5 separate regions of the Homo sapiens genome follow, and all the other regions are linked to region 3. Evidence: fine-mapped expression QTL. A gene starts in region 3. Each other region holds a variant in brackets. All regions are shown on one strand. Distances are from middle to middle.

Region 1 (5,105 bases), 110 kb before region 3:
TTTCCAGTGTCATATATTTATCCAAAACAGGATTCTTAATGGCCAGAGCATAACTGATTTAATGATTGTGTATGATTGAACATTTTATTTTTTTTTTACTTTTATAAATAGCACTGTGATGAACATTCTTGTACCTGAATTGTTTGTACATTTATTTCTTTAGAAGAAATTTCTATAAGTACAATCATTTCAAAGTATATGAATTTTGGAGGTAAGCAGGTCCAGTGCTTAGCCAATTGCTGTGTCCTTAGTGAGATTACTTTTCAAGCCTTAGTATTCTCTCTGTAAGAACAGGTATAATATACTTAACTCAGAGGTTAGAAGGAGTAAATGACAACATATGTATAGCATTTAGCACATCCGATAGTATACAGGATACTCTCAGTGAGTCTTTCCCCAACTACCCCCTTTTTTTTTTTTTTTTTTCTTTTTGAGACGGAGTCTCGCTCTTTCGCCCAGGCTGGAGGGCAGTGGCACCATCTCGGCTCACTGCAAGCTCCGCCTTCCGGGTTCACGCCATTCTCCTGCCTCAGCCTCCCAAGTTGCTGGGACTACAGGTGCCTGCCACTGTGCCCGGCTATTTTTTTGTATTTTTTTTTTTAAGTAGAGATGGGGTTTCACCGTGTTAGCCAGGATGCTCTCGATCTCCTGACCTCGTGAGCCACCTGCCTCGGCCTCCCAAAGTGCTGGGATTACAGGTGTGAGCCACCGCGCCCGGCCCCAACTACCCTTTTCTTAAGTAGACTCTTCTTCCCTAGCATCTATTGTAATTAGCTATTACGCTAAAAAAATTTTGTCTTTCATTCCACCACTAGATCATGAGTAGGGACAAGTTCAGTCTAGTTCATTAATGTATATTGAAAACTCGTACAGGCCTAACAAATGTAAATATGTTGGATGTATGAAAAGTTATCTTCCAAAGCTTTTAATATTCAGTTGCTTTTTTTCTTACAGCAAAGCTGTGCCAGTTTACATTCTCTGCAGCTCTGTGTAAATTGTGTCCTTTTTAATTTACTGTCACTGATACTGAGTATGTTGTGTTAACAAAAAGTTCTAAATTTCAAAGTTATAAACTGATAATTTTAAAAACTTGTATTTTTTGGCTTTTTCTCTGAAGAAGCAATATTTTATATTCACTTCTATTTTCACGTTTTCTGTTTATGTTTTTCATTCTTACTAATAAGAATAAAGACAAAATAAGAGTAATATGTTATAGTCCTGTCCGTGGTCCCCTCCCAAGCATTATTCCATACTTCCTGGGAAGAAAAAGTAAATAGCATCACACAATTATGAGACAGGGTTAATATACAGAAGTACCATATCAAAACTGATCTCCAAGGGGTTTAAACTGGATAAACTTACGGTGAAAAAGTTTAAAAGAATTTTTGCCTAATTTAATTTACTGTATTAACACTGAAAATGTAGGTTAAGATGTTATGTTAAAATCAGATTGTATTTTCAGTATTAAGCTTATGTTTTCTGGAGGGCTTCAAAATCACTTTCATATCTGTGGATGTATTTGAAAATAGTATTTTGCTTGTGGGAAGTAGGCAAAGACAAGTAATATTTAGGTATTGTATTAGATATTTTATGTTACTCATTCATTAATTTAACAAATATTTATTTAACTCCTACCGTGTGCCCCAAGTGCTATTCCAAAAGAATATAGCAGTGTACAAAATAAAATCTATATAGATACATATAATCTGACAGATGGTGGTAAGGATAAGGAGGAAAAGAAACTAAGGGAAAGTATGGAGTGTGTATGAGGTGCAGATTTAAATAGGCTGGTCAGGGAAGTCCTTTCCCACTGATTTCCCCTCAAGGCGTGAGCCTGTGGTGAGGGAGCAATCCTGTGCTTGTTCAGGAGAAAGGGCTTTCAGGAAGGGACAACAACAAAGAACAAAAAACCTGAGAGAGACGGATTCTTGATGTCTTA[T/A]GATTAAAAAATTGCAAAGCAGTATGTGTGGCTAGAGTGTAGTGGGAAAGGAAGAGAATGGTAGATGGGTACAGAAAAGGGCAAATGAGGAAAGACTTTGCTAGGCTACCATAAGGACATTTTTACTTACAGTAAAATATACCTTGTATATACTCTTCACAGTTGTTACACGAGGTTAGCTGAATTTTTCCCATTTTACAGTTGAGTAAATAAGGTAGGTTCTAGCATATAACTGGTAATTAACTTCTTCAAGGTCACATAAGCTAGCCAGTAAGATCCAGAGTCAGGTCTTTGACTTCAAAACCTCCTGAATTTTTGTTTGTACTGTTCTTGTTCAAGCATACTTACAGAGCCTTTCACTTTTACAGTGAAATTCAGACCGGGCTTAGTTTTTAGTGTTGATCTAGGGTGAGTTTTCATGCAGGGCTTATTTTTTTTTAATATCCATAGGAACTAATACCATTCTTATTTTTAAATCAACTTTGTCAAGGAAGTTTACATATAATACAAGGTACCCGTTTAAGTGTCCTTTTTTAAATTAGTTTTCACAAATTTATACACCCGTTTAACCATCACCATCATTCAGATACAGAATATTCCCATCAACCCTCAAGTTCACTGATTCCATGGAGACCCCAATCATGGCCCTGGCAACCACAGATCTGCTTTCTGTCAGTATATTTGAGATTTTTTCTAGAGATTCGAACAAACGGGTTTGTAGGTACTGCATTGTTTTGTGCCTTCTTTTGCTCAACATAATTTCATGACTTATTTATGTTGCATGTATCAGTTGTTCACTTCTGTTGGATATTGTTTTGTTGGCTAGTACTCTTCTAACTGGTGCCTGAAACGTTTGTTGAATGAATGCATATAATAAATATCCTCTTCCCCCAGTTTTGCCGCTTTCCTTTATCATGAGACTGCTAAAACCTCTTCTAGATTTTGTATGTTGCTAGACTTAAATTTGTGTATAGAGTATTTGAAGAGATAATAGTGAAAAATGTGCATGATTTGGAGCTCAGTATTTGTTAAAAAGACTGTTTTCTCTATTTATTTATCTTAGTACCCTTCTCTAAAATGAGCTGACTGTATATGTGAAGCTTTATTTCTGGACTCTCAATTCTGTTTCATTGATTGGTATGCCTATCCTTATGCCAGTATCCCTTGATTACGATCTGCAATTTTGAAAACAGGAATTTTTGAGAATCCTCCAACTCTGTTCTTTTTCGAGATTGTTTTATTAGTATCTGCTCCATGAATTTCCATATGAATTTTAGAACTAGCTTGCTAATTTCTCCAAAGAAACCAGGTGGAATTTTGATAGAATTGTGTTGAAACTGAACATGGGATGTCTTTCTATTTATATAGTTATTTAATTTCTTTTTTTTTAATCAATTGAGTACCAAAATAGACTTTAATTTCTTTTAAGAATGTTTTGTAGTTTTTATGGTATGTTTTGTATTACTTTTGTTAAACTTACACCTAAGTGTTTTATTCTCTTGGATGCTTCAGAAATGGAGTTATTTTCTTAATTTCATTTTTGGATTGTTCATTGTTATTGTATAGAAATGCAATTAATTTTGGCGTATTGATTTTGTACCCTGCAACCTTGTTGCACTTGTTTACTTAATTATTATAAAACATTACTATTAATAAAATCTTAAGTATTAAACTGCTATGTAAACTGTTGTATATTTTCAAGTCTCCTGTTGACTTATCTTGTATCTAGTTGTTGTATTCATTATTGACATGGAGTATTAAAAGTCTCCCAACCACTGTTGTTGAATTGGCTATTTTCTCTCTTCAGGTGTCAGTTTTTGCTTCATTCATTTCGGTGCTCTTTTGTTAGGTTTATGTGTTTATAATAATCTTTTTAGTGGCTTCTTTAGGATTTTCTTATCTATGATATCATGTAATCTGCAATTAGAGGTAGTTTCACTTCTTCTTTTCCAATCCAGATGCATTCTATTTTTTTTTTTTTTGCCTAATTGTTCTGGCTAGAATCTTTAGTACAGTATGAAATAGAAATGGCAATTCTGTTTAGTGGACAACCTTGTATTATCTCTGATCATATAAGGAAAGCATTCAGACTTTCACCTTTGAGTATATACCTGTGTTTTTGTTTTTTTTTCCATGGATACCTTTTATCAGTTTGAGGATGTTCCTTTCTATTTCTAGTATGTTGAGTGCTTTTATTATGAAGGGCTGTTAGATTTTTTCAGATGCTTTTTTTGGTGCATCTTTTGAGATGATCATGTGGTTGTTCTAATATGTTGTATTACATTATTTTGTTTTTATGATGTTGAACAGTTCTTGAATTTTTGGGATAAATCCAACTGGTCATGTTGTATAATCCCTATTTTGCTGTATTTGTTTTCTGGTATTTTGTTGTGGATCTTTGTGCCTATTTTCTTTCTTTCTTTTTTTTTTTTTTTTTTTTTTTTTTTGAGACGGAGTCTTGTTCTGTTGCCCAGGCTGGAGTGCAGTGGCATGATCTCGGCTCACTGCAACCTCCACCTCCTAGGTTCACGCCATTCTCCTGCCTCGGCCTCCTGAGTAGCTGGGACTACAGGCGCCTGCCACCATGCCCAGCTAATTTTTTTGTATTTTTTAGTAGAGACGGGGTTTCACCATGTTAGCCAGGATGGTCTCAATCTCCTGACCTCGTTGTCCTCCTGCCTCAGCCTCCCAAAGTGCTGGGATTACAGGCGTGAGCTACCACGCCTGGCCAGTTTTTGTGCCTATTTTCATAAGATATATCAGTCTGTAGTTTTCATTTCTTGAGATTTCTTTGATGTTGTTAACTGGATAATAATGGTCTTGTAAAATGAATTAGGAAATGTTCCAGGTTCCAAAACTCTTCTCTGTTTTAGAAGAGTTTGTGAAGAATTGGTATCAGTTTTTCTTAAAATTGGTACAATTCACCAGTGAAGCTGCCTGGGCCTGAGATTTTTTTTTTTTTTTTATGGGAAGTTTTAAAATTACTAATGCAATCTCTTCACTTGTTACAGGTTTATTCAGATTGTCTGTTTCATCCTAAGTCAATTTTGATAGTCTGTGACTTTGTAAGAATTTGTCCCTTCCCTTTAGTTATTTAATTTGTTAGTATTCAGTTCACATTATTTCTTTACGATCCTTGTTATGCCTACCCTACAAAGTTGTAGTA
Region 2 (5,105 bases), 170 kb after region 3:
GGTGCTGGGCTGACAGGGAGGAGATGAGTACACTTGGCATTTCTCTTACTGCTGCAGTTCCCTGCTCCATATTTATTAGTGCCATTCAGTTAGGGCTATCAAAATGTTGCTGCAAACATTAATTTGCTAGATACCAGGCTCGCCAGAGAGAGAGAGATTTCACTTGTTAGGTTGATTTTCTGGACAGACTGAAGCAAAGAGAAATCAAGAGAACAAATTTAAGAGAAAAAATTAGGTGCTACAGGTGGCAATTGCTGTGCTGTGGTTTGAATGTTTGTGTCCCCTCCAAAAATTCATGTTGAAACTTAATCTTCAATGCAACAGTATTAAGAGGTGGAGGAGGTGATTAGGTCATGAGGGCTCTGCCCTCATGAACGGGACTGGTGCCTTGTGAAACAGTTGGAGGGAACTAGCTAGGTTCTTTTGCCCTTCCATCCCTCCCTCTATGTGAGGACACAGCCTTTGTCTGCTCTGGAGGACACAGTAACAAGGCACCATCTTGGAAGCAGAGACTAAGCTCTCAACAGACACTGAAGCTGCCAGTGCCTTGATTTTGGACTTCCAGCCTCTAGACTATGACAGATAAATTTCTATTATTTATTATCCAGTCTGTGGTATTTTGTTTTAGCAGCACAAATAGACAAAGACATGCTACTAGACCTGGAGGGAAGATTAGAAAATAAATCTTGAAGGATAGGTAGGACTTAGGTGGAGAAGAGAGATAAAGCCATTCCAAAATGGAAGAATGGCCAGAGGCAAGAATAAGCTTGTGTGCTCACTTTCCTGGCTAGAATGTGAAGGGAGTTATTGGGAACTTAGATTGAAGGTGATATGCCTGATGATGGAAAGCATGGAATTCCCATCAGGACTTTGCATTTCAGAAAGTAGGAAAAAAGCAAGAGGGAGAGAGAAGGCTGGAGAGTGAGGATGAGAGAGAGGCTACAGGGGAAGAAAGTGGAAAAGAAGTCAGGGAAGAGAAATGATGTTGGCAGAAGGGGAGGAACGTTATAAAACCCTCTGGGGGCGAGGCAGGCTGGTTGGTCCAGACAAATCCTCCACCCACCAAATTCCCCATGCTTATGTATTTTTCCAGACTCCCAGGCACAACCCCCTTATGGCTGCCATTTTATTGGCTGCTAGGTTTCCTAGTACCTGCAGTGCACCACAGTGGGCCCAGCACCCGGGCTTCTGTTGATGTAGTCCCTGACAGTTCTCACAAACTGGATCAGAGACTGGGTGGTTTCTGGGACTCCATGGTCTGGCCACACCGTATAGTGAAAGTGGCGGATGAGTCTGTGTGCATCAAGCTGTTCCTCCTGTAAGAGCAGAGAGCAGGATAAAAGAGGAACTGTCCAATGCAAACCTTCAAACTTGACAGCTGAGCCATGGAGCAACTCCTATGGGCTGAAACTACAAGAGAGGAACCAGCGAAAGTGGGGTTCACAGATCTCATTCATCTCCCCAAGCTCGGTTGTTAAGTCAAGCAAGCTAACATACACCGCATATCTTAAACTCCCGGATGGTCCACTCAGGCAGGACGGACTCTGAGAGCATCTGCAGGATGAGGTCCCCATAGTAGAGGGAATCCTGGTCCGCTGGCCAGTAATGATCACACTTTACCTAGAACAGGACAGACAGAAAAAACATGAGTCCGGAAAAGTGACTCCTTGGTGAACCTGGGGTTTCCCTCCTCTAAATGTCTTCCAAAGTTAGGAATCTGGGATCAGCTGCTAAAGCAATTTGACCATCTACTTTATATTAACCTTCTCATGGCCAGTGCTGAAGCTGAGGTGCTGCTCCAAGTGAAGGGGAGAGCCTGTACAAGGAGCACCCCTGACTCCAACCTTTGGGTTCACTCATTTTTTAGGCCCAGTAATATATGGCTTGAGTTTTTTTTTTTTTTTTTTTTTTTTTTCCCCTCAGCATTTCAGTTCCACTAGCAGGTAAACTGTGGTTCACAACGTATTGTTCTTTCTAAAGAAAGAAATATCTAGTTGGGTAGAGGAAGGCACTGTCTTCCTGGCCCTTCTTCGTTCATATTTTTATGTCACTGTCCTAACGTGGGCCGTGTGCCAAGAGATCTTTGAGAAGTTAGAACGTTTAGCTAAGCTCGCCTTTACATGTATACAGACAAGGGGAAGAGGAATGTAAGCATATGTTTACTGAGCGCAGATACTAGGCACTTTATACGTAATCTCTCTTTTAATCCTCAATCTTTTAATCCTCAAAATAACCATATAAAGTAGAGGATGGTAAGTGCATTACAAGGGGGTTTGGTTGATTTGTCTGGATTATTATTTTACTTTGTGTCTGCCAACACAGTCTACAACTCACTTCTCCTTTCCTGGGATGAGGGGCAGGTCCAGTGACTCTGGCAGGGTCTCTCCTCCAGCCAGACACTGAAGAATGGAGTAGCCAAGTGGCCAGGTAATTTTTGGTGTAATGGGCACTGCCACTAATCCCAGTCCTCAAATGGAAACAGCTTTGACTGGAACTTCAGACCCAGAATCAGAATCAGGCATCACTTGGGTTTACTATTAGAGTCTTTTGAACAGAGTGGTATAAGTCACTAACAATGCTCTCACATGATCCCTACGTTGTTTTGCGGGGTTTCACTTTGATGATGGGGCAGAATTCTATCCAGGTGGCAGAAAGCAAAGCTTTGATGCCAGGAAGGCTGTTTACTCACTCGGCCCTTCTCAACACACTGGGTCACCATGACGATGTTGTGAACGTTTTGTTCCCACACCATTTTCCAGAAGTCATCCTTGGTGCCAGGAAGCGGTCCCTGAGTGACAATGTATTCTCTTCTGAAGTTGTTGCCCTGCAATGAATTTACAATATGGAGAGTCAGAAACAATGGGCCTCTTCAGAACTATAAACAAAGAGTTCTTCAGATTAGATGATAGGGAGGTCTCTGCCAAGTCTCTGACTTCAGAAAAAGA[T/G]ACTAACACAAGTGTCAATGCTTGGGAGCAGGAAGGACAAAGGTCAGAACATTGAACTAGTGTTAAGAGCCACATTCCCTTTTACTTGCCTGGGTCTATTCTGAAAGCAAATGGGGGACTTAGGCAATGATCTAGAAAACACTTCACCCTCAATTATATGTGTGTGTTGGGGGGTATTTGTGTAGACTGTTGGAGGGACTGTAATCAGGCTCTTTCCCTATTTAATGTAGAAGAGTGTTAGTCATTTTGGATAATCAATGTCAGAATAATTTGGTAAGATATATCATCCACAGGAAGCATCACGGAAGAGAAACTGTTGACTGAGCGTCTACCATCTAATGTGTCGCAGGTCAGGACTTATTTAATCCAAACCACAGTCCAAGAGCGGGATATTTTCATCTACTCCTTCTGCACTCCGGCAATGACAGCAATTCCTTGTCAATTCTAATCGAAGCTCTTTCTCTTTGCCTTTCCTCAGGGTCTCCACATTATGTCACCTCTGCCATCGCCACCCCCGCCCACCCAAACACTGCTTCTCATCTGACCAATCCTTACTTATCCTCAGCATGGTGCCTGCTTGGCTGAGCCTTCTTTTATCTTTCTCTCTGCTGGGGGATATTCTCCAAGATGCCCCATGGCAATCTCTAGCCTCTCGCTACTGAGTGCCGTTCTCAGACCAGCAGCACTGAAATCACCAAGAGGCTTGTCAGAAATGCAGACTCGGCCGGGCGCAGTGGCTCACCCCTGTAATCCCAGCACTTTGGGAGGCCAAGGCGGGCGGATCATGAGGTCAGGAGATGGAGATCTTCCTGGCTAACACGGTGAAACCCCGTCTCTACTAAAAATACAAAAAAATATTAGCCAGGCGTGGTGGCAGGTGCCTGTAGTCTCAGCTACTCGGGCGGCTGAGGCAGGAGAATGGCGTGAACCCGGGAGGCGGAGCTTGCAGTGAGCAGAGATCGCGCCACTGCACTACAGCCTGGCAGACAGAGCAAGACCATCTCAAAAAAAAAAAAAAAAAAAAAAAAGAAAGAAATACAGATTCCCAGGCCCTGCCTCAGCCCTGATGGATCAGAATCTGCCTTTTCACAAGATCCTCAGATGGCGCAGACATCTTTCAATGTAGGAGAGGCACTGCTGTGGCAGGTTTCCCATGCCATTGCCTTTTCTTGCCTCAACTCTTCTGAGAGTTCCTTTAGGGTCAGGATTCCATCTTATCCCATGCCTGTAAACAGCTCAGTTAGCACTTAATTTCTAAGTGTTTATTGAGTGAATGGATGGTTGCTTGAGGTATGAGGTAAATATTATTATCATCAGTTTTTGGAAAAGAAAATGGAGGCCCAAAAAGGTGACATAATGTGCCCAAGGTCACAGAATCAACAAGGGGCAGAAGTGGGATTCAAACCTAGATTTGTTTGACCCGAAAGCTTTTTCCACTGCAGTATGCCATAGGAAGGTGGCAAGATGCTAACCAAAACCAGAGCCCAAAGATTTGATATAACCTTTGAGTTGTGTCTGTGGTTGTGAAGATTCCAAATAACATGGGATCAGCTTCTCTAGCTAGGCAGCTTTAGCAGGGGAGGTCCATCTTCCTTAGGAAGCTCTCATCTTGGTTAAGGACTGCAGAGAGTAGATGATCTATGAAAATGCATCTTGGGCTCATAATTTCATTTGACTATAGCCATTGTGAAAAATGTGGCGTAGCAGGAACTGAATTGGATACCCCATTTTTTTTATGGCATTCAGATGTGCTCTTCTGAAATCTACAGGTGTTTCCAGACCTAAGAATAACAGGAACATGGAGGAGTGGCATCTCCAGTGTAGCCACCCACCAAAGCCTCATCCTGAACACTATGGCCTAGTGGGTCACTTACAGGGATGTAGCTGGCATTGATGTAGTCAGAGCAAGGATCATCATCTACATTGGAGAGCTTCACTCGCGTGGCATCATCTGGAAGGAGAGATTTGCTGCTGAGTCTTGGAGTGACTTTTCTACAGTTTATGTGATGTGTGTGATGTGCCTTAGCTCTGATCCCCACAACAGCCACAGATGGGAAGTGATCTTATCTCCATTTTGCAGATGAGGCTCAGGCAGGATAACTAACTTGCCCCATGTTGCATAGGTGGCCTATAACCAGTCAGACACAGGAGACAACATGA
Region 3 (5,105 bases):
AGTGATTATACATTATTTTCCTATGTATTTTCGCTTTTCAAGTGTTTAGTGGCAGTTATCAAAAAACTTCATAATGTGCCAATTTTTGAAAAAATTTTCCCACCTGCTGTAAATTCCCTTCTATTCCTAGGATACAAAAGCCTGCCTTAAAATTATTTTTAGAATCTTTTATTAAAAAGTATATATACATATGATATTGTATACTGCAACTTTAGCATCAGCCACAGGACTTTTTGAATATTGATCATGAGAACAAATTATAAGTAACATGGCTTTGATGCCCTTGTTTAGACAGGCTTTATTTTTCTTTTAAATTGAACTTTATCAAGACCTGGCCATGATCCTACTGGAAAAACTACTGCAGACGATGTACATCAAATAAGTCAGTCTGGTTCTTAATATTACATTTTTAATCTTAATTGGTGGAACACTATTCAAAGAAAGGACTAGCTGCTTTTTCTGTGCTACTTCCACCTTTCACAGGGAACAGAGATTTTAAGTGACCTCAGATCTTAGCATTTCTGAGCTTTCCTGGAGTTCTTACTACCATTCTGACTTAGTAAGTGGTGACCTGTATTCTGAAACTGAGGGGCTGACATATCCAATCTTCCTTGGGAATGTGATAAAGCAGCTCCGCTTCAAGTAAGTAAAACTAATAAACACTTCCAGTGTTTCATTAAGAATAAAATAGAAATTGATTTAATTTGTGAAGTCTTAATACGTTTGACTTTCAATAAAGATGTGAAGATAAAAGTGTTCAGAGAAAAGCTAAATTAAAAACAGGAAACAGGAGAAAAAAATGTCTAGAGAACAGAAGACACAAGTTTCTTTAAATACTTTAAGAATAATTGCCAAGAAAGAAATTGACTAAATGCAGAACTGAAAGAAAATGAATTTTAAAACTTCAAGAATTTCAGTTAAAATAAGATAGAATTTTCTGATTTTGTTCCCTAGACTTAGACCACCGTACTTCAGTTTTGAGGCAGAGGTTTCATTCACAGAAGACTTTGAGCTCTGGAATCATTGAAAAACGAACCATATTCATTAAATTATTGGTAGTCCCCCAACTGCTGTGCATTAATAGGAATTAATTCTGCCTCATTTCAGTTCCTCAACATACTGAGCTAGAATAATTGTATCTTGTTATTTGTTCATCATTGCTTCAGATCTTAGACATAGCTTTTCCTTTCTTGGAAAAGAAGATTATAACAATAGAAAAAAAAGATTATTTCCTATGTTTTTTATTTTTCCTGCAATAGGAAAAAGATTCAGATTGAAGATTTGTGATTTTCGGTTATGCTATTTCAATTATTAAACTCACTTTTAAGCAATGTAATCACAATTGTCTTTATGCTAACAGGAAAAGAATACAATTCTTACATTTAAATTAAAAAAAGAAAATCTCAAAACCTGAAAGGTATTAGAGAACAAAGCATCTTCCTAATTTGGACGTTTTTCAAACTCTACATCTTCTTAATTTATTGAGAAAAAGACACTTAGGATCTTCCTGTAATTAATTTGCCCATTGCTGGGAAATACTTGTTACCTGTCATAATGTAGTGCTTCAAAATAACGTTATCAGAACTGCAGTCGAAAGGTACTCAATACCAGTTAAGTAACATTTGAAGTCCAGGAAAGAGAAGTCAAGAATTCCATGATTCCATGTTTCCGTATTCATCAGGAACATAATTAAGAGTTTATTCATTTGAGACTTACAAGCAAACAAAAAAAGTTTATGTAGTTTGCAAGGAAGTTAATATTCTGATTTTATTCTTCGAAATGTACATATAAATAGTTCTCAAGTTTGATTTTATGATAAAAGTGTAGTTTGGGAAAAGGTCATTCTAACTTTAAAAAGGTCGCGAAAACAATAGAGGCTGAAGCATTGTTAGCGTAATTGGGGGAGGAGGGAGCAACGGCAAGAATTAAGAGCAGAACACAGGTCTAGAAACAGTACCTGTCCCAAAGTGGGTCTGCCCGGCGCTGTCGCTTTAAGCAGCGCTCCTGGAAACCTCATCTACAAATCCTGGGGCGGGTCAGGGGTGGCAAGACTCCTAAGGAGGGAAACGACAGAAATGATTCTGTTCTTGCGAGCCCCAAAGCAAGAGTACTTTTCTGATGGGTAAAGTGGTATTTCTTTCCAGGCTGCAAAGCTCTCCACCTTTTTCCTTTGGTCTCAGTCAGCCCCAGCCATGGGGGCAAATCAAGTTGGGGTCAACTCGGCTGCCAGAGACCTAAGTTGCCACAAGGGTCACCGACGACCTAAGCAGCAAGTTTCCTTCGTCCAGCCTCCTGCCCCCACGCACATTGCCTCCACAGCAAACTCCACCTGACTCAGCTTGTTTAACTCCAATCCTGCAGCCCTCCCGGCCTCAGCAGGGTCAGGGGGCGCGGGTCTGCGCCAAGACGGTTAGGAGGCCCAAGTCCTGGGACTGGACGGTTACTGCGCTCCCTTGGGCGCAGCCGCTGGCGGCGTGGGCGCGGCTGGGTCACGCCTCCGGCACCACCGCGCGCCAGCCCGCCCGTGGCATGGGAACCTGCGATTCAGTCGTCCCCGGGGACCTCCCAGCGCACACCGCTAGCCTGGGGCTTTCACCTCGATCCGCCCGGCCTGGGCGGCTCGTGTCCTCCCACACCGCCACCCGTGCCCGCTTCCCGGGGTGCGCCCGGAGCCTGGCCGCTCTCCCTGCAGGTGACCAGTACTCGTTTGGAGTTCAAGATTCCCGCCGCTCCACTTGAACTCCACCCTCCCCTCTTATTATTATTATTATTTTAACTTCCCTCCGGTTAAGCTAAATTGATCTTAATCTTTCATCTCGGACGTCCCTCTAAGGGGAGTGAGCGAAGATTCCGATTGCAAGTCGCCGCTGTCGCTTGTGCCCGTCAGCCCCTCGCCCAAAGGAGACGCCCCCGGGCGGGGCGGGGCGGAGCGGGGCGGGGCGGAAGGGCCCGGGTCTGCTGCGGACGGGGCGGGGCGGAGCCTCCTCCTGCACGGGGGAGCCCCCGGGCTCGCCCCAGCTCAGACACTCCTAGCCTTGGGGCAGCTGCCGGGCGAGTCAGCGGAGTAGCGGCCAGCGGGCGATGGAGACAGAGAGACACCCGACGAGAGGAGGCGGGGTGGGGGAGGCGGGGAGAGTGCGGGGGCGGAGGCTGGCAGGGGGCGCTGGAAGCTGGAGCGGTCCGTGCGCTCCCCGCGCCCGAGGGTGCAGGAGGCTCTGAAGCGGCTGCTGCACCGCGGGGCCCAGGCGGCGGCTGGGGGGCTGGGGGGCGCTGCCGCCGCCGCCGCCGGGGGCGTCGCTGGCCTCGGCCCCTTTGTTCTCGCGCGCTCCCCCTCGCCGCCCACTCCCCTGCTGTCGCGCGGCGGCGGCGGTGGCGGCGGCGGCTCCTCCCGCCCGAGGCAGTCGGGCTCGGCGCCGGGGGCGGGAGGGGGCGGGGGGAGCACGCCAGCCGCCGAGAGTGGGGGGCGATGGCGAAGCTCCGGGTGGCTTACGAGTACACGGAAGCCGAGGACAAGAGCATCCGGCTCGGCTTGTTTCTCATCATCTCCGGCGTCGTGTCGCTCTTCATCTTCGGCTTCTGCTGGCTGAGTCCCGCGCTGCAGGATCTGCAAGCCACGGAGGCCAATTGCACGGTGCTGTCGGTGCAGCAGATCGGCGAGGTGTTCGAGTGCACCTTCACCTGTGGCGCCGACTGCAGGGGCACCTCGCAGTACCCCTGCGTCCAGGTCTACGTGAACAACTCTGAGTCCAACTCTAGGGCGCTGCTGCACAGCGACGAGCACCAGCTCCTGACCAACCCCAAGGTAAGAACGCCCCGCGCACCCAGGGGCTCCCCGCGAGGGAGGTTTGGAGGCAGCGTCGGTGTTAGACTCCGCGCGGGGAGGGTTCGGCGTGTGCTCGCATTGCTAGGAGGAGACCAGGTGGCGCAGGCTGTGCTCAAACCAGGAATGACTACATCAGGGAGCCCCAGGGCTCCGGTCTTTTCAGGTGGGTTTACGCGCGGCGACCAGTGGTGCCCAGAGGCTTACTTTAAAACCTGTCTTGCCTGGTCTCAGATTTTGAGGCCTCGACCCAGTCCGGGTCCTGCGCCTACCGGACTGGGTTTGGAGAAGTGCAAGGAGCCAAGAAAGTTAACTTTTCCTCCATTTAAAGCCAGTGGTTAGCGGGGATCCACCTACTCCAGCTCACGGTCAAGGTCCGAGCTTCAGCTGGTCTCATCTAGAACTCAGATGGAATGACCTTCCTTGAAAGGTCGAGGGGACTCTCGAAAGTTGTGAGAGAGTTCCTCACCTTTTCGCTCTACATAGGCATTTTCAACTTGGGGTTCAAAGATAAGCTTTTGTGGCTTGACAAACGACCCGGAATCAAATGTGGAATATTGCGGGTCCATTTTGGGAAGTACAGAGGGCTCCTAGTTTTCATGAAATAGATTCTCAAAAGAGTCTACAGGGAGCCTAGTTACCCTTTGTGTTTAGGGACAGTCAGGAGTCGTCTGGAGAACAGTAAAACTTGCTGAAAATAGAAAACCTTCAGTGAAATGTACCTAATATGACTTCTCTGACAACTTCTATTGGTCTCGAAAGCAAGCAAGAAGAAAAAGAAAAAGAAAAAAAAAAAAGATAAAACCTGGTTAGGACTCCCGGGATGGAGAGCAGAGAGAGGAAGTCTCAGAAAACTGTTCCCAATGGAGAAAAATAACTTATAAAAAGCAGTGTCCTTAGCCTGTGAACTAATTGAGCTTTGTAGTGCACCTGGTTCTGGTTCCGTTTCTACTTCCCTTGATCTTTTCTGCTCTCCTTGTTGCTTAACTATCAAAGGTATGTATCTTTTTAAAAGTTACTGACATTTTTCCTTTTTTTGAGGGATCAAGCAGAAAAACAGTCCAAAAGGGAATGCATCTTGTGTTCACAGGAAAACTTTCTGTTAACTCTAACAAGATATATTTATATTAATCCAAAAGAAAAAAATTCTACATTAATATTATAATAGTATTTAAAACAGCTTACCGTCACTCTGCAATAAAACTTGTGGTCTTACCTCCTGAACAGTAAATTCTTGAATTTGAGACATTTAGAAAATATTTCTTTTTAAAAATATGAATGACTC
Region 4 (5,105 bases), 86 kb before region 3:
ATGTGAATTGTATATTTTTGAGATAACTGGAGAAGATTCATGTAAAAGAAAAAAATATGTCAGTTGTGGGAGGGGTAAACTTTTTTGTCCACTTCATTTTTTATTCACTGTAAATTTCTCCCTTGTGTGTGATGTCTGGCAGACAGTCTTAATTGAAGAAAGTAGAAGTGGGTAGGAAGAATGTTTCATATTTAATAATTTCTGTTGCAAATAAAGTATGCCAGTCTAGCCCGCGAAAATGGTTACGAGGAAGACTAGAGTATAGAACAATTACTTTTTGTTTTTTGTTTTCTGTGTATCATATTGAATATTTTTGCTGCTGTTGATATATTTACATGTTAGTAATTTTGATGGCTTTTGGATAATTCCACTCTAGAGGGAGACGTGGTGGGCGGTCCTTCCTGTGACACGACCCTTGAGTGACAGTTCTATTTGATTGCCTCCGGTACTGTGAGGAAAGGACACGACTCTATGGTGAGGACTGATGGACATACATTATCTGAGAAAAGAAACTACCAGGTAAGACCAGTCTTTCTTCTTTTTTCTCTATTGGTCTTATAGCTACATTGAAACTGTTCAAATGTGTTATATGTAATTGGAACCAGCAAATTGGTTACACCTCAATTTGAAAATTTGGGTTTATAATTTTAAATTAAGTACTGGATTTGATAGTTGAAATAGTTGGGAACACTTTTCAAAATAAAGCATATTCATAATGTATATTTTTTAGTGTCAAATCAGGTTTTCTGAGATATTTGTCAAAACTTAGATTATTTGATATACAAGTTATGACTTCATGACTGAATTCAAAATGGTAAAAACAAAAGTGTTGATTGCTTTTACGTATATTATTCCTGGAAGACTAAACCCGAAGTCTTGTGCTATATTTTGGATAACAAAGTATATATCACAGAAATGTAGACAAAATTGAGTAGAGTATAGAAGAAATAGAAATGAGAAACCCAGGGTGCTTAGAGACCCAAATTCTATTGAATTTGTTATTAGTTTGCTGTCCTTAAATGCTAGATTCTTGTTTTCTCATTTAATAAGGTGGTTAATAATATTCATTCCTTATTCAGTGTGTAGGAAGGCTGGAAGAATAGTGGAAATGTAACATTGCTATTTCTGAGCTTTGAAAAGAAGGTGAATTTTAAAGATTGTGCTATTAAACAGTGATTTAAAGAAAACCAACATATTTGAATTTAGTTTTTTAAAGGAAATATCCTTTATTCATTTGATAGTGATCTGTTATCACATTTATTTAGTTATCCAGAATACAGAATACTTTAAAGTTTGAGTACAAATAAACTTTTAGGCTTCCTGCACAGATATGTGTCCAACCTCCCCACCTCCCACACTTCCTTTCACTCATCAGTTCATTCCCTCTAGGTTGTGAAGGCAGCTAGTATGATAGCAGCAGCTTTGGTTAACTAACTGTTTATCTGCTAACCATTTATTTTAGCCCAGTTAATCTTTTCTTCCCTCAAATTGGAAAAGTTAGCAGTGGAGCAAATTGTAAATTAGTCTTTTTGGTGTATGGTATAACAAAGAGGCTTTGATTATAAGATCTGGGTTCTGGTTTAGGCACTGTTCCTAATTAAAAATAATGTCATATTTAACCTTTCTAGAATTTCTTCTAACTTGGTATCTAAAGTTTCTTGCCAGATCTTTATGATTTTAATAAGCCAGAGAAAACTGAGGGTATGCTGAATCAGTTTTCTCTGTAACCTTTCTTCTGAGTTGTCCTCATAGACTTGACCAACATAGCCTTTGCTAATGATCTGTACTCAGGTGTAGCTCCTGCTTCCCACCCACTTCCAATTACCTTGACTCATAAGATTTTAATTGGTCACACTTCTTGGACTTCTGCATCTTTTGGTAGGTTCTGCCAAATTATTTTAAGAATTTTGTGATTCTGAATTATATGGCTTTTCAGTGCTCATAATCCAATTTGTAAAGTGTGAATGTAGAATTTTTATGTGATTACACACTATAGTTAATTTGTCTCATGGAACCACATTAATATAGAATTCCAAAATTTATACTTAAGAAAGAAAACAGAATTATGTTTTATACATGAAGAGATTTGCTTATTCTTGCTCTTTCTACACTAAAAGTACTCCATTGTTTCAGTCATATTATTTACAAATAATCCAGGTTTTTGAGCATACCTGGAAAATGCATTTTTGGTTATGGGTTTGCTGCCTCAAAATGTTTTCCCTTTTCTCTCTTCGTTTATTGATACATAATTGTACGTATTTATGGGGTACATGTGGTATTTTGTTACATGTATAGAATGTCTATATAAGAATGTATGGGAAATTCAAAGGAATGTTCATCACTAAA[G/A]TAACATTTATATTTGTACTGGTAGTCTAAGAATTTTTATATTCTTAATATATTCATCATAATACCAAACAGGAAATTTTGTTTCTATACATGTGCTTTTCAGAGTAGGGTTCAAAAATAAAATAATTTTACAATCCAGCTTTAAACAGCTGTTTCCAAGGTATACTTCAATATGCATTTAGCATCACTAAGTAAAAACAAAAGAGAAAAGGGACATAGAGGGATAAATTCTAATGTTCCATAGCAGAGTAGGGTGACTATAATTAACAAGAAGGTATTGTATATTTCAAAATAGCTAGAAGAGAGAACTTAAATCTTCCGAATTGATGAAAATGATTTTGGATTTTTAAAAATTCTACTTTGGAGGAAATTTATGTATTTTTCATAGATAAAGTAGAATTTCTTTGTGTCTATGTTTATAACCATTTTCATTTATCTTTGAGGGCTTTTGCTTTTGAGGGACACTTAATATTTTATATTTATTTGAACATTCTGATAATAGGCTAATATTGAAGAGTTTAACAAGAATTTTTGTAAAATTTATCCAGGTCTCATTTCCTTACAGACCTGATTAAAGCCTTAGGAATTAAGTTTAGGAAGGTGCATTCCCTTGGCTCTATACTAAAGATAGTGACTTTTAAATGGGCTTGGTTTGAAGTATTGATTTTTATGGTGGTATCTACTTTGTGTGTTTTCTTTCTTACTATAAGTTTAAGCCCAGTTAGGTATTTGGAGTTTGAATACAGTAGCTGAAGTTTATTTGCAGAGATAGACTGGCATATTAGTTCAGATAAAACAATTTATTATATGGCTCATGGTTCATTTTTGGATTGTCAAGCTTTTTCCAAGGAAATGCACCTTCAGTTTTTGTAACCATTTTCTTATCTTCCTCTAATTTAGACTAACTTACCCTAGCTATGAGCATGCACATGCACAAATGTAAACCATCTTAATTACCAATTTAACTAATCAATGGCTTTCCCTTTTTTTTTTTTTTTCTTTTTTTTTGAGACGGACTCTTGCTCTGTCACCCAGGCTGGAGTGCAGTGGTGCGCTCACTGCAACCTCCGCCTCCTGGGTTCAAGCGATTCTCCTGCCTCAGTCTCCTGAGTAGCTGGGATTACAGGCGTGCGCCACCACACCCAGCTAATTTTTGTATTTTTAGTAGAGATGGAGTTTCACCATGTTGGTCAGGCTGGCCTCGAACTCCTGACCTCGTGATCTGCCCGCCTTGGCCTCTGAAAGTGCTGGGATTACAGGCGTGAGCCACCGGTGCCCGATCCGGCTTTCCCTTTGTTACATAACATATTCAAGCTTCTAAACATTACCTTTAGACTTTCCAAATTCTGGCCTCCTTACATCCATTTACCTTTCCAATATATCTCCTGTTACTTTTTGTAGTAGATTTTCCCATTTAATAATACAACACTGCTTTTAATCTCCCTGCCATGCAGTTTCACACCCACAGGGGTTTACTTATATTGGTTATTTTCATGTAATGCCTCACCTTTGTTCACATGATTCAAGAATTAAGTATCAGTTTTTCCAGACGTCACCCTATGGTAGATTCAGTGTTCCTTTCCCTTTCTTTCATAGCCTTTACATACTTCTAGTTTAGTGTTTACCATAATACATTGTAGTTGTGTTTATTTGTCCTTGTCTTCCTATAGACTTGTGCAGTCCAATGCCGTAGGAACTAGTCACAAGTAGCTATTTAAATTTAAACTCATTTAAATTAAATAAATTTAAACTCATTTAAATTAAATAAATTTTAAAGTTCATTGGTCACATTAACCACATTTCAAATGCTCAGTGGCTACATGCTGCTAATGGCTACTGTATTGAACAGTGTAGATACAGAACATTTCTATCATTGCAGAAAATCGTATTAGATAATACTGCTGTATCTAATAAGCTTCTTGAAAACTGGGACCGTATCTGTTTATTTTGGTACTGCCAATACCTAGCTTGGTGCTTGGTATGTAGATAGGTGTTCAATGCATGTTGTTCCAATAAAATTAAATAAAACAGTGAAAGAAGGGAAAGGAAGAAATGGAAAGTATACTGGGTAACATACCAGTGTAAGTGGTATGGGAAGGTAGAGGTATTTGCAAGATATTTAGATGTTACTTTGAATGGAACTTTTCAGTATGAGGTCATTGGTCACATCATATGCTAGCTAATTCAATGCATTATCTACAAACTGGGTCTAATGCATCCTATTCCGTACGTTTCTGAAGAATGATTCATAATCTAAAACATTGTATTTTTGTGGAATATAGTATGTCAGAGAACTGTAAAAATGATTGTATTGCCATTTTCTTCCCCAACATTAAATATCTTACTTCCTTTTAATTAACTTTAAAAATCACAGATGCCTATTACCAAAACGTTGAAGAAAAATACGGAATATAAAATACAGTGTGAAAGTTTGCCTTGACAACTTTACTCTTAACAGTTTGGTGTGTACCTCTTCAGATCTTTACTAGTGACTATATAGTGTAGATGTGATTCATTGTCTTTGTCTCTAACAAATGTGTATTTTTCTGCATTGTACTTAATGGAGCTATTTCCGTTTCCCATTCTTTCCTCTGCCCTCTTCCCCAGAAGTAATCAATAGTTTTAATTTTGTGTTTCATTCTTTATATTTTTATAACTTATTACATATATGTTTTTCAGTATATTGAGGTACATCTTTTTTATGTATTGTGTGGCAATTTTTTGGAAAGTGGTGCCCCATATTTTATTATTTTGAGTAG
Region 5 (5,105 bases), 23 kb before region 3:
AAGAGCACATTTAGCACAGTCTAGCCAACAAATCTGACTACCTACAGCCACCTACACCTATGTTATTCTTGTTTTCCACCCTATTACCATAATTGACCCATGCGTTCTACTTACAACACATTTTCACACTTTGTTGGGTCATTTTCATCAACATAGAAATACATTGTTACTTCTCTCATCTTAGAAGAAAATCTTCCTTTGATCCAACCTCCTCCGTAAGTTACTTTCCCATTTCTTTATTTCCCTTTGAAGCGAAACTTTTCAAAGAGTCATCTCCATTTCTCCGACTTGGTCTTCTCCCATTCTCTGGTAAGCCCATTTCAGTCAGGATTTTGTCCCTGCCACTTCACTAAAGCTGCTTTTATCAAGGTCACCAAATGACCTTCATGTTATTAAATTCAGTGGTCACTTGGAGGAACTCTTGCTCCTTGATACACATTCTTGTACTTGAATTTGAGAGCACCATTTTTACCTCATCTTCACTGGTTGGTCTTTTTCAGTTTCCTTTGCTGGTACCTCCTCCTTTTCTTCTTGACCTCAGTGTCATTCCTCTTCTCTGCATTTACATCCTTGATGATCTTTTTCTAGTCTTATTGTTTTAAATACCATATATATTGAGGAATCCCAAACATATGTTTCCATTCCACACTTCTGAGTTTGAGATTTCTACATTCAATTGCCAATTAAATATTTCTTGAATGATCACCCCCCAACTTATTCTGTCTACAGCCTTTCCAATCTCAGTTAGTGGTAACTCTGTACTTCCAGAAACTTGGCATTATTCTTAACTCCTCTTTCTTTTATACCCCATAATCAGGCTTTTCCCAAAATATATACAGAATCTAACCAAAGCTCACTACTTTTAACTGCTACCACCCTTGTTTGAATCATTCTCTCTTGCCTGAATACTCCATTAGCCAGTCACTGGGGGTCCCTGATTGTCCTTATACCCCTTCCCGTACAATCTCTTCATATAACAGCCAAGACAATCCTTTTTTAATACATTACTCCTCTGCTCAACACCCAGTAAATGTTTGTGGTTTCATTATGATTAAAAACCCCAAATCTTTTTTTTTTTTTTTTTTTTTTTGAGACAGAGTATTGCTCTTGTCGCCCAGGCTGGAGTGCAGTGATGCAATCTCGGGTCATTACAACCTCCACCTCCCAGGTCCAAGCGATTCTCCTGAGTAGCTGGGATTGCAGGCATGTGCCACCATGCCCAGCTAATTTTTGTATTTTTAGTAGAGACGGGATTTCACCATGTTGGCCAGGCTGGTCTCTTAACTCCTCACTTTTCAAGTGGTCTGCCCACCTTGGCCTTCCAGAGTATTGGAATTATAGGTGTGAGCCACCGCGCTTGACCAGAAACCCCAAATCTTCACAGGCCTGCAAGGTCTTACATGATTATTGTTTGTCCCCTAACCCCACCTCAACAGCTTTTCCCTTTGTTCACTGTATTCCAGCTTCACTGGCCACCTTGTTATATCTCAGGCATGTCAGTCATGTCCCTGCCTTAGTTGCTCTAGGAGTTCCCTCAGACTAGAAGAGTCTTCTGCCAGATAATTAATATGACTATGTCCCTTATAGCCTTCAAATCTTCAGATCTGACCACCTTAATGAAACCTAACTGACCACCCTATTTAATAATTATGCATCCAGTCTCCCCTCCCAGTTCCCCTCTAACATGGGCCATTGTTTATTTATTTATTCTGTTAATTGATTTTGTCTGTCCCCCTCCAATCCACCATCCTCAACCAGAAAGTAAGTTTCATGTTGTCAGTGATCTTGTTTTGCTCACTGATGTGTCGTAAGCTCCTAGAACAGTGCCAGGCATATAATAGGCACTCAGTAAATATTTGATGAATTTAAACTTTTGCAAATAGTTACTCAGTTTTCTTCTTGCCACACAAATAAATGGGAAATTTATTTAAAATTTATTTAAAATTTAATTTATATTGGGAGCATGGTATTGAAGAATTTAAAGCATCTTGAGTTGAAATCAAGTAAAAGTAGAAAATTTTTAATCATGTTTTGTATATTGTGATATGTTGTGTTATTTATACTGTATTGCAAGAATACTGAGGGAAGGAGTCCTATCATATTTTACAGACACACACACAAACACACACA[G/A]TCTTCATTTGCTTCTGTATAAGTCAGTAAACCCAAGTAAGGGAATTAGAAGTAAAGATGGTCATTTTACAGTTGGAGTCTTTGTTTTTCCTGAAATAAAATTAGAAATCTCTTTTTCTGGATTTCAAAATGTTTTCTTTTCCTCCTTATTCAGAAATCTCTACCCCAAATTTGCGTCACCCTGGGCATCTTCACCTTGTCGACCTCAAGACATAGGTAGGAGAATCTATTTGTGTTTAGACCTTTTAAAAAGAAATTTACAATTGAGAATCAGTTAATAAGGCTTTTTTCATTTTATTATCCAGACTTCCATGTTCCATCTGAGTACTTAACGAACATTCACATTAGGGATAAGGTGAGTGTAGTTTATTATTCTACTCAGTCAGCATGAATTTATCTATTTTTCACATGTTTTTCAGTTCAGGCAGCATACTATTTTTGAAATAATTAGTAATGGTCTCAGGGATATGCTTTCATATGTCCATGTTAACTTGTTAAATGGTAAATGTTAGGACTGGTAAAAAATAAAAATTCTTACATTTAACAACAGGTTACAACCATAACCGCAGTTGATGAGAATAAACTAGATTGGAACATTTGATAAATATCCTTCTGATAATCTTATTTTATGACCTTACCAGTAAAAAGATTTTCGTTACAAGTATTACAGATACAGTGTTTTTAATGAGATGGTCTGTATCTTTAAAAACTATTTATGACCTTTGACTTTTCTCTGTATTTTTTCATTTCCATTTTTTTAAATCACCTAAAATTCTAATTCTAAAGTAGTTATTAACAACAGATTACAGCTTAATCTCTCTTTTTTCAATCTAAGAAAGAAAATGGTGGCACTTTTTGCTTTAGAAGAACTGAGAGTTTGTTTCTATTACCAAAAAATATTCACAATGGTACCTAAATTTTAGCCTTGGGAAACTACAATTTAGTGAAAAAATATATTTTTGTTATATATTTGTGTATAAATATCTATGTGTATGTGTATATATACAACAGCATTCTGAGTGTGCCTTACAGTTCTGTGGTCAAGTGGATGTTGATGTGGACAGGCAAGTAAAGGGATACCTTTCTCAATGTCTTCTAATACTTGAGTAGATAAAAGGCAAGAAATACAAGATGGAGAGGTCTCCTATTTTCTATTTGCGGATTGTGTGATTTGCTCCCACCACCACTGTAGAGCTCTTTCGCTCCAATTACCAAAGTGTTCCAGAACCTTTTCTTATTACCAATTTGAGAAATACTAATTTAGGAGAATTTGTCACATTGGGGCTGCTGCCTGAATAGGGATAACATGAATGGAGAGAAAAATTACATTCAGAGAATGTGTAATAACCAAATAAGTATTTCGATATAGGATCAAATAACGAGATAAAAATGTTGTTTTGGGACACTTTTAAGGTTTATTTAAATGTGAAAATTTGAGACTATTGAACCTATGTTTTACAGTTTGGTAAGCAGTTATGTTTCTACCTTGGGGAGAGAAATGTAAAGCAATCATCTTTCAGACATCTATTTAAACAAACTGAAAAGCCATTTCTTTATGATTTTTGTATTCATCATCTGTGATTTGCTGAAAGCATACAACTGACTTGTGAATCATTCACTGTCAGATATAGATTCAGTTTAACATTTTTTATAAGCCGTCTATATATTTGGCACTCTACAAGGTGCTTTCATATACCTTCACTCATTTTATTTACTTTCTTAGTAACCCTCATAGGTGTCATTGTCCACATTTGACAAGTAAAGCTAAGAGATTTTAAATAACTAGGACACAGTCATATTAATGAGTAATAAAACCAGGACTTGAATACAAGTCCTAGATCTCTGAGCACAATGCTATTGTTAGGTTCTTTTCCCCATTGGGTATTAAATCCTTTTAGTGGATCTTGCTTGGAAGTCTTTATTGAGCTTTTCTTCCAGTCAGCATATCAATTAGATGTATCAGAAATAATTGTTTAAATGACTTCAGTCATTTAAATGAGGAAATTCCCTTTTAGAATCTTAACTACCTATCTGTGTAATCATGTAATAACAGTTATCTACTACAAAGTGGGGAGTTTCTGTTTATCTCTCCATTTTTTCTTTAGTAGTAGCAACTATATATTAGGATTTGCAGATTTGTTTTATATTTCAGAATAAGTTATTTTTCTTTTTCAGCTGGCTGCAATAAAACTTGGCCGATATGGTGAAGACCTTCTCTTCTATCTCTATTACATGAATGGAGGAGACGTATTACAACTTTTAGCTGCAGTGGAGCTGTATGTTCAAAGTATTTTAATCACTTTTGTATTATAGTGGATCTTGACTATGCTGAAAACATCTTTAAGTGATGATGGCTATCTTTAAATGGAACTATTTCTCCATCAAGAAATTTATTTTTACATTATTAAAGTGAATTTAATTTAGATTAAAACCGTATCTTAACCATGGCTTCATAATCTATATACCTAAAAAGAATTTCAAACTTAATGCTGAAGCTGGGTGCAGTGGCTCACACTTGTAATCCCAGCACTTTGGTGAGGTGGACAGATCACTTGAGGCCAGAAGTTAGGGACAGCCTGGGCAACACAGCAAACCACATTTCTACAAAAAATAAAGGAAAATATTAGCTAGGTGTGGTGGCACACATCTATATAGTCCTAGCTACTTGGGAGGCTACAGCAGGAGGATCGCTTGAGCCCAGGAGTTTGAGGTGTCAGTGAGCTATGATTGTGCCATTGCACTCTAGTGTGGCTGACAGTGCAAGACCCTGTCTCTAAAAATAACTAATAAGTGCCAAATTTGTAAGAAGACAGAATTGACATAACTCATGGATTTGGTGAATCTAATTTTTGTAAATATGTGAATTATATGATATTCATGACTATGTTTTTTATTCCTTGTGGAACCATATGTATAAATAATTCGATACTGAATTTAATCATTTCATAAACATTATTACTTATAAGCAAGGCAGT

The links. PIP is the estimated chance that this variant, and not a neighbour inherited with it, causes the effect.
Region 1: its variant is fine-mapped to the expression of KCNMB4 in whole blood (INTERVAL, PIP above 0.99).
Region 2: its variant is fine-mapped to the expression of KCNMB4 in substantia nigra (GTEx, PIP 0.97). The same link has a PIP of 0.9 or more in putamen.
Region 4: its variant is fine-mapped to the expression of KCNMB4 in whole blood (TOPMed, PIP 0.99).
Region 5: its variant is fine-mapped to the expression of KCNMB4 in monocytes (TOPMed, PIP above 0.99).

What each region holds. Positions count from the first base shown.
Region 1 is chr12:70,256,947-70,262,051 of GRCh38, forward strand. The region is part of intron 1 of CNOT2 (CCR4-NOT transcription complex subunit 2); the gene reads left to right. Among named protein-coding and RNA genes, the nearest start is that of CNOT2, 16 kb to the left of the region's middle. RefSeq lists enhancers at 136-636, 1,620-2,153. The variant T/A (reference allele first, on the strand shown) is at 1,940.
Region 2 is chr12:70,533,336-70,538,440 of GRCh38, forward strand. PTPRB (protein tyrosine phosphatase receptor type B) reads right to left here. Exons shown (of 34, transcript NM_001109754.4): 28 at 4,820-4,896; 29 at 2,690-2,824; 30 at 1,498-1,620; 31 at 1,153-1,316. All of the region lies in intron 6 of PTPRB-AS1 (PTPRB antisense RNA 1), which reads left to right. Among named protein-coding and RNA genes, the nearest start is that of PTPRB-AS1, 68 kb to the left of the region's middle. The variant T/G (reference allele first, on the strand shown) is at 2,946.
Region 3 is chr12:70,363,269-70,368,373 of GRCh38, forward strand. KCNMB4 (potassium calcium-activated channel subfamily M regulatory beta subunit 4) reads left to right here and starts at 3,022. Exons shown (of 3, transcript NM_014505.6): 1 at 3,022-3,802. The coding sequence starts at 3,467. RefSeq lists a silencer at 2,838-3,077.
Region 4 is chr12:70,277,756-70,282,860 of GRCh38, forward strand. It overlaps CNOT2 (CCR4-NOT transcription complex subunit 2), which reads left to right. Exons shown (of 16, transcript NM_014515.7): 2 at 377-519. The coding sequence starts at 472. Among named protein-coding and RNA genes, the nearest start is that of CNOT2, 37 kb to the left of the region's middle. The variant G/A (reference allele first, on the strand shown) is at 2,347.
Region 5 is chr12:70,339,823-70,344,927 of GRCh38, forward strand. CNOT2 (CCR4-NOT transcription complex subunit 2) reads left to right here. Exons shown (of 16, transcript NM_014515.7): 12 at 2,285-2,346; 13 at 2,436-2,485; 14 at 4,306-4,406. Among named protein-coding and RNA genes, the nearest start is that of KCNMB4, 24 kb to the right of the region's middle. The variant G/A (reference allele first, on the strand shown) is at 2,131.